Linked DNA regions of Homo sapiens. The protein of the gene in region 1 interacts with the protein of each later gene in a biochemical or structural test. Each region holds a gene or a part of one and is shown on either strand. Other genes may lie near its edges.

Region 1 (7,027 bases):
ACTCCTATACTATTCTTCATCCACAGAGCCCAGGTTCCAGTGTTCTGAGGATAATGTAATTTATGTGTCAAAATATTAAGCTGCATAGATTCTAACTAAATGCTACACCTTTATTTTAACAACCCACTCTCAGCATTCCTTACAGTACCACTGCCAAGTTGATTCATATTGGATGAATGTCTTTCCTTGGGAGCTAAAGGAAATAATCTGCTTCTAAACTTTTCACTATCCTTTTGAGAAGACAGGTATATTATCACTGTCTCCATCTCACTGATTAATAAACAGGGTCTAGGAGAAGCTTAATGGACTGAAGAGAGGCAGAATAGTCAATGAGAAGGACTGAAATACTGCAGTGCTTGATACTATATTTATATTATGGATCAGCGAGGACACATGCTTAGACATTCTTGAGCTAATTTAGGTGGCTCTAATAGCTACTTGTTCTGATTTTCTTTCTTTTTGGGGGACTAAGTGGAGTCACAGTCTTCCTGAAGAGGCATTCAGAACCATACTGCTGAGCCTGATCACTCAAATACTCAGATGCCAAATGAAGAAAAGGTGGATGTTCTCTCTCTCTTTTCCTTTGTATCTCTGCCTTCAGGTTCTGCTACCAAATGGGCTTCATGGCAGAGAGGTGTTCAATAAGCTGACAACTAAGAAGAGCAAGAGATTTCACACATATGACCTTTAATCACTAATCACCTGAACTGCATGAGAAGTAATGTGAAAGGGAAAATTCAAATGAAACTATATAGCAAAAAATTTTTAAGGGATGAAGCTAACTCATTATAGAGGTAGGTTCAAAATCATGTATCTGAGACCAATACTTAATTCTGCCAATCAAGACTTCTCCTGTCTGTACTTCATTCATTTATTTCAACGTTTTCCCAACGTGGCCATCTTGCCCTATTCAGTTCTAAAAGAAAACAGGGAATAGTTTTCTCCTCTTCGGACCATGGGCTTATGGCCCATCTGGAGAGGATAGGGCTCCGAAGCCCTATCCTATTTCAATTTCCTTTTATTTAAGTCTAGCCCTTTGAAGCCAGCTCTCCCAAGAATATTCTAGATAATATCTCACCCCCTCAGCATTTTTCCATTCTTTATACCAATCATCTGCACTGTTTCCATACAAGTAATAAGCTGGCCATTTTTCACTAGTCCTGAAGATTAATAAAAAAAGAAATTCTACAGAATAATTATCTCCAACTATACTCCCTTATCCCCCAGCAAACTGATAGTATCATAGGATTACTGTGGCCCATGGTAAGGTAGAGAAATGAACAATAGGGCCAGAGTTATATTTTGCATTTTAATAGTTTTGACTGTATGCTTGTTCTAATTTATTTTAAGACCTGAGGTCTGTGGGCCCATATTTATCAGTCAACCTTTTTAGGTTTGCCTGAATTTCTTAACTTGTTCATTTCTTAAACATTATTAAGCACTGTGCTATGATTCAAAAGGTTAAAAAAAGATCTTAGGCCGGGCCCGGTGGCTCACGCCTGTAATCCCAGCACTTTGGGAGGCTGAGGTGGGCGAATCATGAGGTCAGGAGTTCGAGACCAGCCTAGCCAACATGGTGAAACCCTGTCTATACTAAAAATATAAAAAATTAGCTGGGCGTAGTGGCAGGGGCCTGTAGTCCCAACTACTCAGGAGGCTGAGGCAGGAGAATCGCTTGAACCCGGGAGGCAGAGGTTGCGGTGAGCCAAGATTACGACCCTGCACTCCAGCCTGGGTGACAGAGCAAGAATCTATCTCAAAAAAAAAAAAAAAAGGATCTTTTCACTGCCCTTGAGGAAATATTCTGGAAAATAGTAAGATTAATAATTACCATGTAGTATGTCTTCGTAGAGACATTAGCAGGATGAAATGGGAACACAGCGGACAGGTACCCAAATCAACTGCATTCCAAATTTTCATGTTAATAATGGGTGAAAAAGGGCTCTGAGTCTGAAAAGGACACTTAACTCCAACCTTCCTTCTTTCTGTTTTGTGATGTTAAATCCAATTATAAGGGCTGACATTCCCCCAAAGGAAGATACACATTAGTGTTTTAATCAACAAAAGGAGGTGATAAAGTAATGGATGAAAGACAAAATTTGTGGATTTTAAATCTCTTTTCCCCATATGAGTCCCTCGCTGCTTCCTGCCTTGTGCTTTTTGAACAAGTAACTTCACATTCTGGGCTTCACATTCTCATCTATCAGGTGAGCATAATGTTGCCCTCCATGCTCAATGATAGGGTTGGAAAGAATGACTGATCAAAGTTGTTCCCATTCAACTCTACAACCTGTATATTTCCAGATCCAAATCTTTTCAAGGAAAAGGGATAGGGAGGGGTAGGACCTAGGGCTTAGGGAGCAAAGGACAGTGAAGGAGGCCGAAGCCCATTCTCACCGAAAGGATCTTATCACCCTCCTGGAGCCGCCCATCCAGGGCCGCAGCCCCATTTTCTTTGATGCGGCTGACGTAGATGCCACTGTCGTTGGAGACATACTGCTGATCTGTCCCACCGACGATGTTGAAGCCCAGCCCTGAGAAAATCATGGAGGAGTAAAAAGATGGGGGTGAAGAAGAAAGAAAGAGATTAGAGAAGATGAAGAGAAAGGGAGGGAAAGCCTACTGGGGAGGAAAGGCTGATGGAGAGGAGATGCTGGCGAGTCAGCCTGTGATGGAGCTGGTGAATGGTCATGAACAAGGTCAGCCATATCAAGAGTATTGAGTTGCTCACTCAAATGAGGCACGACTGAAAATATAAACACAGTGATCCACCTGTTTTGTTCAATATATAAAGAAAGATCTATATAGAACTTAAAGAATAATGGTGATTACTCTAAGTTCGTTCTTCTTTTTCTTTTTTTTTTTTTTTCAGAGTCTTGCTAGTGGGCATAGTGGTGGGCGCCTGTAATCCCAGCTACTCAGGAGTTCATAGCTCAGTTGCCCAGGCTGGTTATGAGCTCCTGGCCTCAAGCAATCACTATTGCCTTGGCCTCCCAAAGTTCTAGGATTACAGGTGTGAGCCACCATGCCCAGCCTAGATGTAAGTTCTTCTACTCACATTTAGTTTTGATCCTGTTGATGGTATTCAAAGGACCCAATTCCTGACATTCCTGATATTACTACAGCAGGGTTAGCTGTGTTCATCAAAAGAAGCTATGCATTTTTACCAATTATCAAATGAACTGTTCCTAATTTAGTGTGAGAGATTTCTAACCATACCTTCCCTTCCACACTTTCCTTCTCCCAAGCTTCTGGAGAATTTATGTATGATAGTGCTTTAGAAAAATCTCTTGAGAGTTTCTTTTTTTTTTTTTTTTTTTCCATTTTGGTGGTGGAGGCAGTGGTGTAGGTATTGGCAGAGAAACCTCAGAACCAGAAAGGTAACTGCTATTTCATGGTAGGACTAAATCACCAAATTTACTCTCCCTTCCTTCGCTACTTCAAGTACAACCATATATAGGTTGAGTATCCCTTATCCAAAATGCTTAGGACCAAATGTGTTTTGAATTTTGAATTTGGGGGATTTTGGAATATTTGAATTAAACTTACCAGTTGAATATCCCTAATCCAAAAATCTGAAATCTGCAATGCTTCAATGAGCATTTCCTTTGAACGTCATGTTGGCCCTTAAAAAATTTTGGAGTTGGAAGCATTTCAAATTTCAGATTTTTGGATTTGGGCTACTCAATCTATACTTGGGCATAGTAATTGACAACTTTTATTCACTGTAGAAAAAACTGACTACTCGTTGATTAGCAACTCCCCAGTTCCTCTTCCCTAAGTCCTTGGAAACCACCATTCTAATATTTGTTTTTATGAGTTTAACTATTTTAAATGCATATAATTTTAGTTATGCAAGATGAATTAAGTTCTAGAGATCTGCTGTACAACATTGTGCCTACAGATAATACTATATCATACACTGAAAAATCTGTTCGGAGTAGATCTCACGTTAAGTGTTCCTACCACAGTAAAACAAAATATTAAAAGAAAGAAAAAAGAGAAGGAAAGAAAACTGAGTACCAAAGTGCTATTTCTATGGACCAATGACTAAGTGCTGGAAAGGATTTTACTGTACAGAAACCGTTGTTAGGAAAGGATTTTACCTATGCATAAAAAAATAAAAAGGAAAAAGGAACTTCTCTAGGGCTTTCTTAATGTCAGCTACTGGTAGAATTCAGGGGCACAGTGTAAGACAAAGGAGATAGTTTGGAAACAAACCAAAAATCTAGCGGTGCAATTGGAAGGAATAACCATAATCACCAGCCTACACTGTTCTCAATAGAAAAGATACTTAAAGAGACATATGCGGGGGGCCGGGCGCGGTGGCTCACGACTGTAATCCCAGCACTTTGGGAGGCCAAGGCAGGTGGATCACAAGGTCAGGAGATCGAGACCATCTTGGCTAACACAGTGAAACCCTGTCTCTACTAAAAATACAAAAAATCACCTGGGCATGGTGGCAGGCACCTGTAGTCCCAGCTACTCGGGAGGCTGAGGCAGGAGAATGGCGTGAACCCGGGAGGTGGAGTTTGCAGTGAGCTGAGATTGCATCACTGCACTCCAGCCTGGGCGACAGAGCAAGACTCCATCTCAAAAAAAAAAATAAAAAAGAGACATATGCGGGCTTTCTGAAAGTTCTCCCCATTGGTGGGAGAAAAGCTTACACCTGAAGCTCACAGTATTAACATAAGCACTAGCAAATCAATTTGTAATTTAAAGAAAAACATGACCAAACAAAGACACAACAGGAAACATTTAAGTTAAAAAGCATACCTTAGCCAGGCATGGTGGCTCACGCCTATAATCCCAGCACTTTGGGAGGCCAAGGTGGGTGGATCACTTGAGCTCAGGAGTTCGAGACCAGCCTGGGCAACGTGGTGAAACCCCGTCTCTACCAAAAATACAAAAAATTAGACACGCGTGGTGGCACATGACCAACATTGGGAGGCTGAGGTAGGAGGATCATTTGACCCTGGGAGGCAGAGGTTGCAGTGAGCCAAGATTGTGTCACTGCACTCCAGCCAGGGTGACAGAGTGAGACCCCCATCTCAAAAATAAAATAAAATACATAAAAAGCATACCTTGTGCATAAAATCTCTGCAGCTAGATAATAGAAAGAATTTATTCTCTAAAATAATATACATAATAGAAAGTGCTACTTCTGGAGTTTGTGACCTGGCTGGGCAACATAGCAAGACCCTATTCTCTAAAAAAATAAATAAGAAGGTGCTACTTCTGGAAGATGCTATTTTAACTTCCTTGAAGGGCTGGGTATTAAAAATAGTAGCTTAACTTACTAAATGATTTTCTTAGAGCACCCTCAATTTGTATCATAGAAGGTAGGAAGTATTGGAGAAGGTACAGAAATGTAAGATAAGGTGGAAAAGCAGATGGAACAAGATTATCGAAGGTTTTGAAATGACTTCAAAACTGTGACAGCTTTGAACAAGGGGGCCAAGGCCAACCCACCTCTCCCAAGCTGGAACAAACTATGTAGAAAAATCTTTTGATGAAATCCAACACCCTCATCAAATGCTACAGTTGCCTCTGGTGATCTTGGGAACAGGAAGCAAATGTTAAGCAGCTGAATGCAATGTAGTAGTTAGCAACAGAAAGGACTTTGCTACTGGTTATTCAAAGCTAACTGTAGAAAAAAAAGGAAGAGTAGAAGAAATTTTACCGAGATTTACCATAAACAAAAAAGAGCCGTCTACTACACACCCCATCGAAGTCATATTATATAGGTACATTTATAACCCGTTGCTACTTCTGTTGTAAATGAACCAAACTATTTAACATGAGAACTCCTGGACTGACCTGAAGCCCTTTGTTCAGCCAGAATATTTACAGAACTGGGTGTATCTATAAGCCAAAGCATTGCTGCAATAAAAGAGTCACCACAGCATTAAGTAGTGGCATGACCAACTGAACCTGGGCTGTACGGATACCTACATAATCCCCAGTTCACTTGCTCAGTAAAAATTACTGATTGAATCTTATGTGTAAGATGTTGTGTTATCATCTGAGGAAGACATAAAGTTAAACTGCACACTCCCTGCTTTGATCACAAACTGGAGTTTTTCCTTTTTCCTGTCCCTTTAAGATATTGCAGAAGCAAATCAACATTTACTATGTGTTAGGCATTACGTTATGCTCTGAGGAAGATATAAAGCTAACCTGGACAGTTCCTATTTTAACCACAAACCCAAATTTATCCTTTTCCCTGTCCCTTTTAGATATTGTAGAAGCAAATCAAAGTCAGAAGACTTGGTTCTAAGTTTATAACTTACCAGATATGTGGACTGAAGCAAGTCAGTTTACCTCTGATCCTCAGCTTCCTTTTCTACAAAAATAAGAATTATAAATTCTGCCCTGTCTACATCAATGGGTAAGTGTTAGGGGCCAATAACATAAAATACGAAAAAAAATCTTCATAAACTACATAGTAGTTGCTCTATTGGGATAAGGCGCTAGGAGTAGTTGTCAATAAACTAATGGCTGCTAAAGCTCCAAACTAGATAGTTTGACAGAGAAAGAATGAATAAATATACAGTAGAAATGCAAAATCTCCTAAAAAATGGGAAGACAGATTTTAAAATTCCACCCATCTATAAACAGGAACTCAAACTTATTAAGTACGTCTATGGCATGTGACCTAGAAATCCCCCTTAAGAGTAGTTTCTAGCAAGTGTGATATCTAAACTCTGCGGCAATCATCCAGCATATGGACCAACCAATTGAAACAGATGTCAGTTGGAAACCACCAGAAAGGGAAAGGCTATTCAATACGTATCTTGCTAATCATTGGCTATGGCCCAGAAAAATCTTGCATAAGTAGGGTGACCACATATCCCAAAAGCAATTGCCACAAAAGCCAAAATTGACAAATGGGATCAATTAAAGAGCTTTTGCTCAGCAAAAGAAACTATCATCAGAGTGGACAGGTAACCTACAAAATGGGAGAAAATTTTTGCAATCTATCCATCTGACAAAGGGCTAATATCCAGAATCTACAAGGAACTTA
Region 2 (7,027 bases), on another chromosome or scaffold:
TAGAGGAATATTCTACATATTAGTTGTTATTTTATGTTGTTATTTTGTGTTCTGCTAGTCCCATGATATAACAACTCTATAGTCAGGATATTTTAACTTTTAAAATATTTTCTAGAACCTTAGATTTTCAACTAGTCTTTAAAAAAAAAAAAAAACAAACTTGTCTTATAGATTGGTGGAAGTTGACTATTCTTGTAACAAAAGTTTAAAGCTCTGGTATTTCCTTCTGGTCAAATGTTTATTAATGTGAAATGGAAGGAAATTTGAACCATTTGAACCATTCCAGAAAGATTGTTTCTTGGATATTATTTTTCCCTGAAAGGGAAACTCACAACCTCTTATAGGTAAAAAGAAAAGTCTCCTTATACATATGGCCTTTGTCAAGAACATAAGTTTCTTTTTTTCCCTCTTTTTTTAGGGTTCACTATCAGACTTTCTTAAGGCTAATGTGGTCTCTTGGAATGAACTGTGTCATATTGCAGAAACCATGGCTAGAGGATTGGCATATTTACATGAGGATATACCTGGCCTAAAAGATGGCCACAAACCTGCCATATCTCACAGGTAGACTAAATTTATATTGTTTTCCCAGATAATTGAGTATATATTTACTAAACTTTTAAGCCCCTGGGTAAATTTTAATTTTTCCTTTGTTATGCAATCATGCTTTACAAGACAGTCAGTTTTCATTTGTTTTTTAAAATTAGCTTTGAGATTGGCCAGGAAGTATTTTGGATAATGTATATGTTAACATTATTGGTAAAGTTTAATGATCTACTTCATCTCATTTCTGAAAGCATGATTGAAAATAAACTATATTTTCTCGATCTCAAAGGAAAAAGACATTTGTTTTACCTCAAAACATGATTTATCAATAGGGATTATTATCCAAGGGCATGTAATGAAGGAGAGACTTTGAATGTCTTCCTTGCTTGTTTTTTGAATGACCTTATCTGTACCCTGAGCCAAGTCTTAAAGGGAGGCATCACTTAAAACAGTTGTCCAGTGAAGAAATACTACTTAGACCCAACAGTTGTCATGCCCGCAAAAGGAAAAATGATTGTGTCTTAAACATGGAATTCAGTTTGCCATGTATTTAATTTTCTTGAACGTGGGATTCAATTTGTTGTCTTGTGTTCCATTTAAAGATGGTTGTTTGAAAAGTAGGCATTAACTGATTCACAGAACAGATACTTAGCTGAGTGCCACCAGGCGATGTTTTAGGTTGCTGGGAGGCATTATTGTAAGTCAGCCTCTAATTTAGGTTCTGATTTTGCAAACTTTAAATGACGTCTACCTCAGAAATAACTCTTCTCACTTTCTTACATGCAGTCTATTGGCCTCGTCTTCGATTTTCCCTTGCCCTACCTGGTCACATAGGGAATTAATCCTTAAGGACCCCCAAAGTTATTAAGGGCCTGAAAGTCTTTTGAAACTAAGATCGATTAGCTTTTATAGCATTTGGGAGTGTCTGCTTGTGCTTTCAGTATCCCATTATTGGTCTATATGTCTGCACATAAATTTAACCACTAGTCATTGGCATAGATGTATTTAACTAGGGTATAGTAATCTCTAGGATGAGCCAGTTGAGACAGGTGTGTAGAAGAGGATATCTTACTGCCTTAAAACTGTTACCCTTTTCAGAACACCAGGATCTAGCTAGAGCAGTGTATGTTTATGGTAAAAAGTTTCTGTTATTCATTCCATAAGATGCTTTTCTACAACCAGGTGGAAGAATATAAGAACCTCTATAATAAGGGATTATTCTAAAATGTAGGTCTCTACCAATAAGCAGAAGGCCCCAATTCAGCTATTTTTTAAAAGTTTCTTCATTTTGGTTTAAAATTTCTGTTTCTATGGGAGTTTGCAAATCAGAACTCTGAGATATTAACAGTAGTTTTATGATTGGTAGGTGGGTGACATAGATAACATATCTTTTTGGTATGGCAGATTTTTATATAACTGCTTTATAGGTAGGATTCCTTCTTATTGTCCATGTTATGAATAGGGGTTTGTCACCGTGCTCTTGTGTTTAAGGCTGCATGGGGCTCTGAGCTTTGTTTGTCTCACTTTCTCTGCATTTCATAATTTTAAGTAACTATTTTTTCATAGTGTACATATTCCCCCTTTTCTGCTTTCAATAAAAAATTTAAAAAGGTAACTAGTTTAAACTTAATTTGAATACTCTTTTTATTTGCAAGGGACATCAAAAGTAAAAATGTGCTGTTGAAAAACAACCTGACAGCTTGCATTGCTGACTTTGGGTTGGCCTTAAAATTTGAGGCTGGCAAGTCTGCAGGCGATACCCATGGACAGGTAAGGATGATGATTATAAAATGTAAGAAAAAATAAACTTGTTCCATATTTTCTTAGAATGGCATGTCAGGACTGAATTAGTCTAAAATTGTTGTGGTGTTTAAATCAGCATCTAATAGAGTTATCAAAGTTTCTGAGGAAGACATTTTCATATGATGGTAGAGGACTCAGGTGGTTTAGATCAAGCACTTCGTAAAGCAACCCTTAGACACACGTCATAGGATTCTTTTTGAAAAATTGATCAAAGAATAATCCACCACCTTTTAACAGACCTCATTCTTAGGGAATTCTTCGTATGAACTCCGTAGTTTTAGTCTGTTAGTTCTTTCACCATCTTAAGAAGAGTGGAAGAATAATTAGTCACTGTCCTTACTACAGTGTATTAAGATTTCCTGTCCATTTTCCCATGCAATAATAGTTTATTGCTTCTTGTTGTTTATTGCTTCATTAATTTCTTTAATCAACTTGATGGCTTTTCTCCAAATTCTCTCCAGAGTTCAGAGCACTTGTAAACCCCTGAATTAGGTAACTCTTCACACCTCTGTATATATCCATATGCACAGAAATCTTAGTAATGGGAACCTCTAGGAAGGCCAAAAGGGAAAAGAACATTATCCATACAGTTTATTCTCAGAAACTTTGAGGCTGGAAAAGATGTTTTCATTCCTGCAAGATCACCTTTTATTTTTATTTATTTATTTATTTTTGAGACAGAGTCTCGCTCTGTCACCCAGGCTGGAGTGCAGTGGCATGATCTTGGCTCACTGCAGCCTCTGCCTTCCAAGTTCAAGTGATTCTCCTGGCTCAGCTTCCTGAGTAGCTGGGATTACACACATGCACCACCATGCCCAGCCTAATGTTTGTATTTTTAATGGAGATGGGGTTTCACCAAGTTGGCCAGGCTTGTATCGAGCTCCTGACCTCAAGTGATCCTCCCACCTCGGCCTCCCAAAGTGCTGGGATTATAGGCGTGAGCCACCACGCCCAGCCAAGATCACCTTTTAATCAGGGAAACCAGTTCAACCTAAAAGGTGACATTTTCTACAAAGCTAAATGGTTCAGGCCTTCGACATTATCATTTCTTCATCTTTCATATCATGTAAATTATTTGGCCAACTAATTCTTAGGTTTCTTTTCCCCAGCATATCCTATTGGTTCCTGAGGACACGTTTTTAATGTCATGGCACCACCAATTTTGGCAGTATTGACTAACTATTTAAGAATGTAGTTTGGGGTAATGGTCAGTAGCCATATAGCTCTAGAAAAGTTGACTGCAAATGTGTATGGGAATGGAGGCAATTTTGTGGAGAATACTACCAAGATTGTGTAGGAAGCCTGAGGACAAACTTCTAAGCTAATTGAATGATAGACTATCATAAGACTAAATTCTGGGAACATATTCTTAATTTGGTACCTCATAAGCCCTCCCTCATTTTTTGAGAAAAAAAATTTCTGACTCATTCATGTCATATTTTTAACTCCTTCACAACTGGGTTTTATGATTAGTTAAAAATTATTGGCTTACAGTAATGACTCCTTGACTTTAGATTTCATGGACCAGAAAATTTCAGAAATATTTGGAGGGACTTGCATGTTATTGCACATTTTATATAGTACAAAGAACACATATAAAAGAGGGAACATTTTATGTCAACATGGTAAATAAACCATAATCTTACAATAAAAGAGGTAGGTACCTTGGATGGCATACATTTACCTGTAAGAGAAAAGTAGGCTTTAGGGAAACATTCACTGATAGCACAATTAAAATAATTATTCTGAGTAGTAAATTTTTTAAAAGTAGAGCCACTTTTCCCTTTAATGTGTTCTCCTTGAACTTTAGTCTTAGTGATCTGTCTTTATTCTTAAAAAAAATCTTTACATGTATATTTGCATAAATTGCCCAACTTTTAGTCTAGAGTAGAGATTATAGCCACCTAAGGATGGAGCGTTATGGACGTACCAATATCTAGACTACTCTCTAGTTCGAATACATCGCAAGTATGTTGTGATGTACCCAGCTATCTCACAAATATTTTTAAGCATTCATATATGAATGTTGTCAAGCACCAACCAAAGCTAGCTGTACTAGCTTAGTAACCATAGTTACAGTACTAAGAAATACCAAATTGTTGGGGACAGTTATAAATAAAGGACTCCAAGACAGAAGAATTTATGAATAAACAAATACATAGATTTTGTACAGATAGAACTTTTTAACATCAGTCTGTCCTTTACTTAGCTAATTCTTTTTATAACATTTTATTAGTTTTTTTAATACAGAGAAAAGACCTCAAAAAAAGTTTTTTTTTTAAAGCTACATTTCAAACAGTATGCAAAGGTACAGTTGAAAAGTATGCAGCATCCTTCTCCCAGCTGACAATTGGTTCAGTTTCTTGTGATTACATCCAGAAAGGGGAACATAAAAACTTCTAAGTCTGTACCAGCATAATGTCTGTTGATATATTTTTTAAGTATACGCAGAAAGGATCTTTCTATTTATACGCTATAGTGTGTATACCTTACCCTGGTAATAGACCACATTTGGTTTTGATTCATCTTACAAAATCATATGTTAGTTCATAAAGTTAATGAATGAGTACTCTTTGCTTTTAACATCTTTTTCAGGTTGGTACCCGGAGGTACATGGCTCCAGAGGTATTAGAGGGTGCTATAAACTTCCAAAGGGATGCATTTTTGAGGATAGATATGTATGCCATGGGATTAGTCCTATGGGAACTGGCTTCTCGCTGTACTGCTGCAGATGGTAAGGGAAAAAAATATTTTTAAAAAAGATATATATGCCTACCACACATATATGAAAAGGGATGATACACTCCAAGGTAATATTTTAAAGTACAGTTTTTTTTTAATTGACTCCAAGAGATGGTAGAGAATTCAGGAGGCAGGGGAGCAGTGGGTGGGGTAGGAGAGGAAAGGAATTGCTATGTATTGATCCTTTACCATTACTAGCTATGTTGCTGGACACTTCACATACCTTAAGGTTATTTCCTAAAACGGTTTCAGAGGTAGTTATTATGCTTTACATATGAGGAAATTGAGATGCAGAGAAATTAAGTAGTTTGCCTACTTTAGCCTCAAACTGGTGAATGATGAAACCTAGATTTGAAACTCTGATCCAGACATAGGGAGAGGTCTGCTTTAAGGTCATATGGGTCCTGCCCCCCAGGTTAAAGGGTTTCTATTACTTGTTCTTGTTATTGAAGTCCATGTTCAAGTCTTATAGATATTTGCTTTTATTTATTTATTTTTCTGGGTAAATTTTCAGACGATATTTCCAGTGTGACAGAACTATTTTAGTGTTTCAAGCACTGTCTTTAGTACTCCTTCATAAGGTCTTTACTCTGTCTTCAAGTATGTTGCAGCATTTTTTGTTTTGAATAATATAAGGCAAACTTGCCGACTGCTAAACTCCTAAACAGATGTAAATGAGCTTGATCTGTTTCTTAAGTTCTAATTTATAATTGCCTAAAAACTTCCTGTGATTGTCAAAGACCATAGAAGAAATTGTGAATATTTTAAGTTATAACCAATGTAACCTATGTTACTAACAATATTTTATTTTCTGAGTACTGTAATAGGCTCTCGTTGTAGGACAGACTGCCACTGGAATATGAAATTCAATATAGGGTACTATTAAAGGGAATTTAATAGAGTGTTCAGAAATGGGCATTCTTCCAGGATTGAGGGATTGGCTTGGGAGTCAATGCCAAACCTAAGAAAAGTTGAAGCAATTTTGGAATAATTTCAGAAGTCTTTAGGAAGAAGCGTTAAGAACGCAGAGTGTTTTGACTCTAAGAGGAATGACATTTATGATGTGCATTTATGGAAGCAGAAGTAGGTTAGATGGCAGATGTTATAGGAAAATATATTTTATAAGAACTTTATTAATATGAACTCTCCATAACAAATCATTGGATTAAGTAATTTAGGAGACACAAGACCTTATTCTCAAGTAATATACAGTTTAGTTAGGGCAATAAAATATATCCTGGACAATTAACTCTAGAGTAAGTTAAGTGTGAGTTGTCTGGCCCATTCCCCAGTACATAGGTATTCAATAAATGTTTCTGGGTTAGTGCAATACTTAAGAAATACAAGCATGTGTTTTAGGAGTTTAGGGGAGAAATTGCTTTGTTTATGGGGAAGAGAGGTTTCAGAGAAGTTCTTTTGGAAAAAGAAAAGGCTAGATACTGACTTTTCTTAAATGCCATGAAATAATTTCAGAGTCAGGCATTTCTGACTCTTAAGTCAGAACCCAATTGTTAAGTCAGAAATTGGGGTAGAGAGGATAGTGTGAGCATTGATTGCTAAAGTAGGTGCTTTCACGTGTGTTGATGGTTACTTGTTTGTTAAATGAAGTAATTCTCAAACTTTAATGTGTCATACCAGATTCTTAGGAATCTTGTTAAAATTTAGATTCTGACTCAGTAGGTCTGGGTTGAAGCCTGAGAGTCTACATTTCTTAAAAGCTAAGCTACCAGTTGACGGCAGTGTTGCTGGCCTGTACACCACATAAGTGTTGAATAGACACCTTAGAATGTCGGTACTTTGTCACTGGAAGTACTCAAGCAGAGACCAACTGTCCAGCCATAGATAATTCTTATATTTGAAGAGGGTTAAGTTAGATGACCCCTTTATGATTCATTGTATTCTACCCAGGAGTATTTAGTGCATTTCAAGAGCTTCA

Evidence for each region. Proteins that work in one complex are often made in the same cells at the same time.
Region 2: the proteins of SYNJ2BP (region 1) and ACVR2A form a complex in vitro, tested with the Homo sapiens proteins (2 studies listed by BioGRID and IntAct, with this or other methods).

The regions. Positions count from the first base shown.
Region 1 is NC_000014.9:70,386,073-70,393,099, forward strand, and holds part of SYNJ2BP (synaptojanin-2-binding protein), read right to left. Parts: intron 2,535-7,027; coding exon 2,398-2,534; intron 1-2,397. Other genes in the region: SYNJ2BP-COX16 protein, read right to left, coding at 2,398-2,534. UniProt on the Homo sapiens protein: Regulates endocytosis of activin type 2 receptor kinases through the Ral/RALBP1-dependent pathway and may be involved in suppression of activin-induced signal transduction.
Region 2 is NC_000002.12:147,918,029-147,925,055, forward strand, and holds part of ACVR2A (activin receptor type-2A isoform 1 precursor), read left to right. Parts: intron 1-418; coding exon 419-564; intron 565-2,201; coding exon 2,202-2,316; intron 2,317-4,944; coding exon 4,945-5,083; intron 5,084-7,027. UniProt on the Homo sapiens protein: On ligand binding, forms a receptor complex consisting of two type II and two type I transmembrane serine/threonine kinases.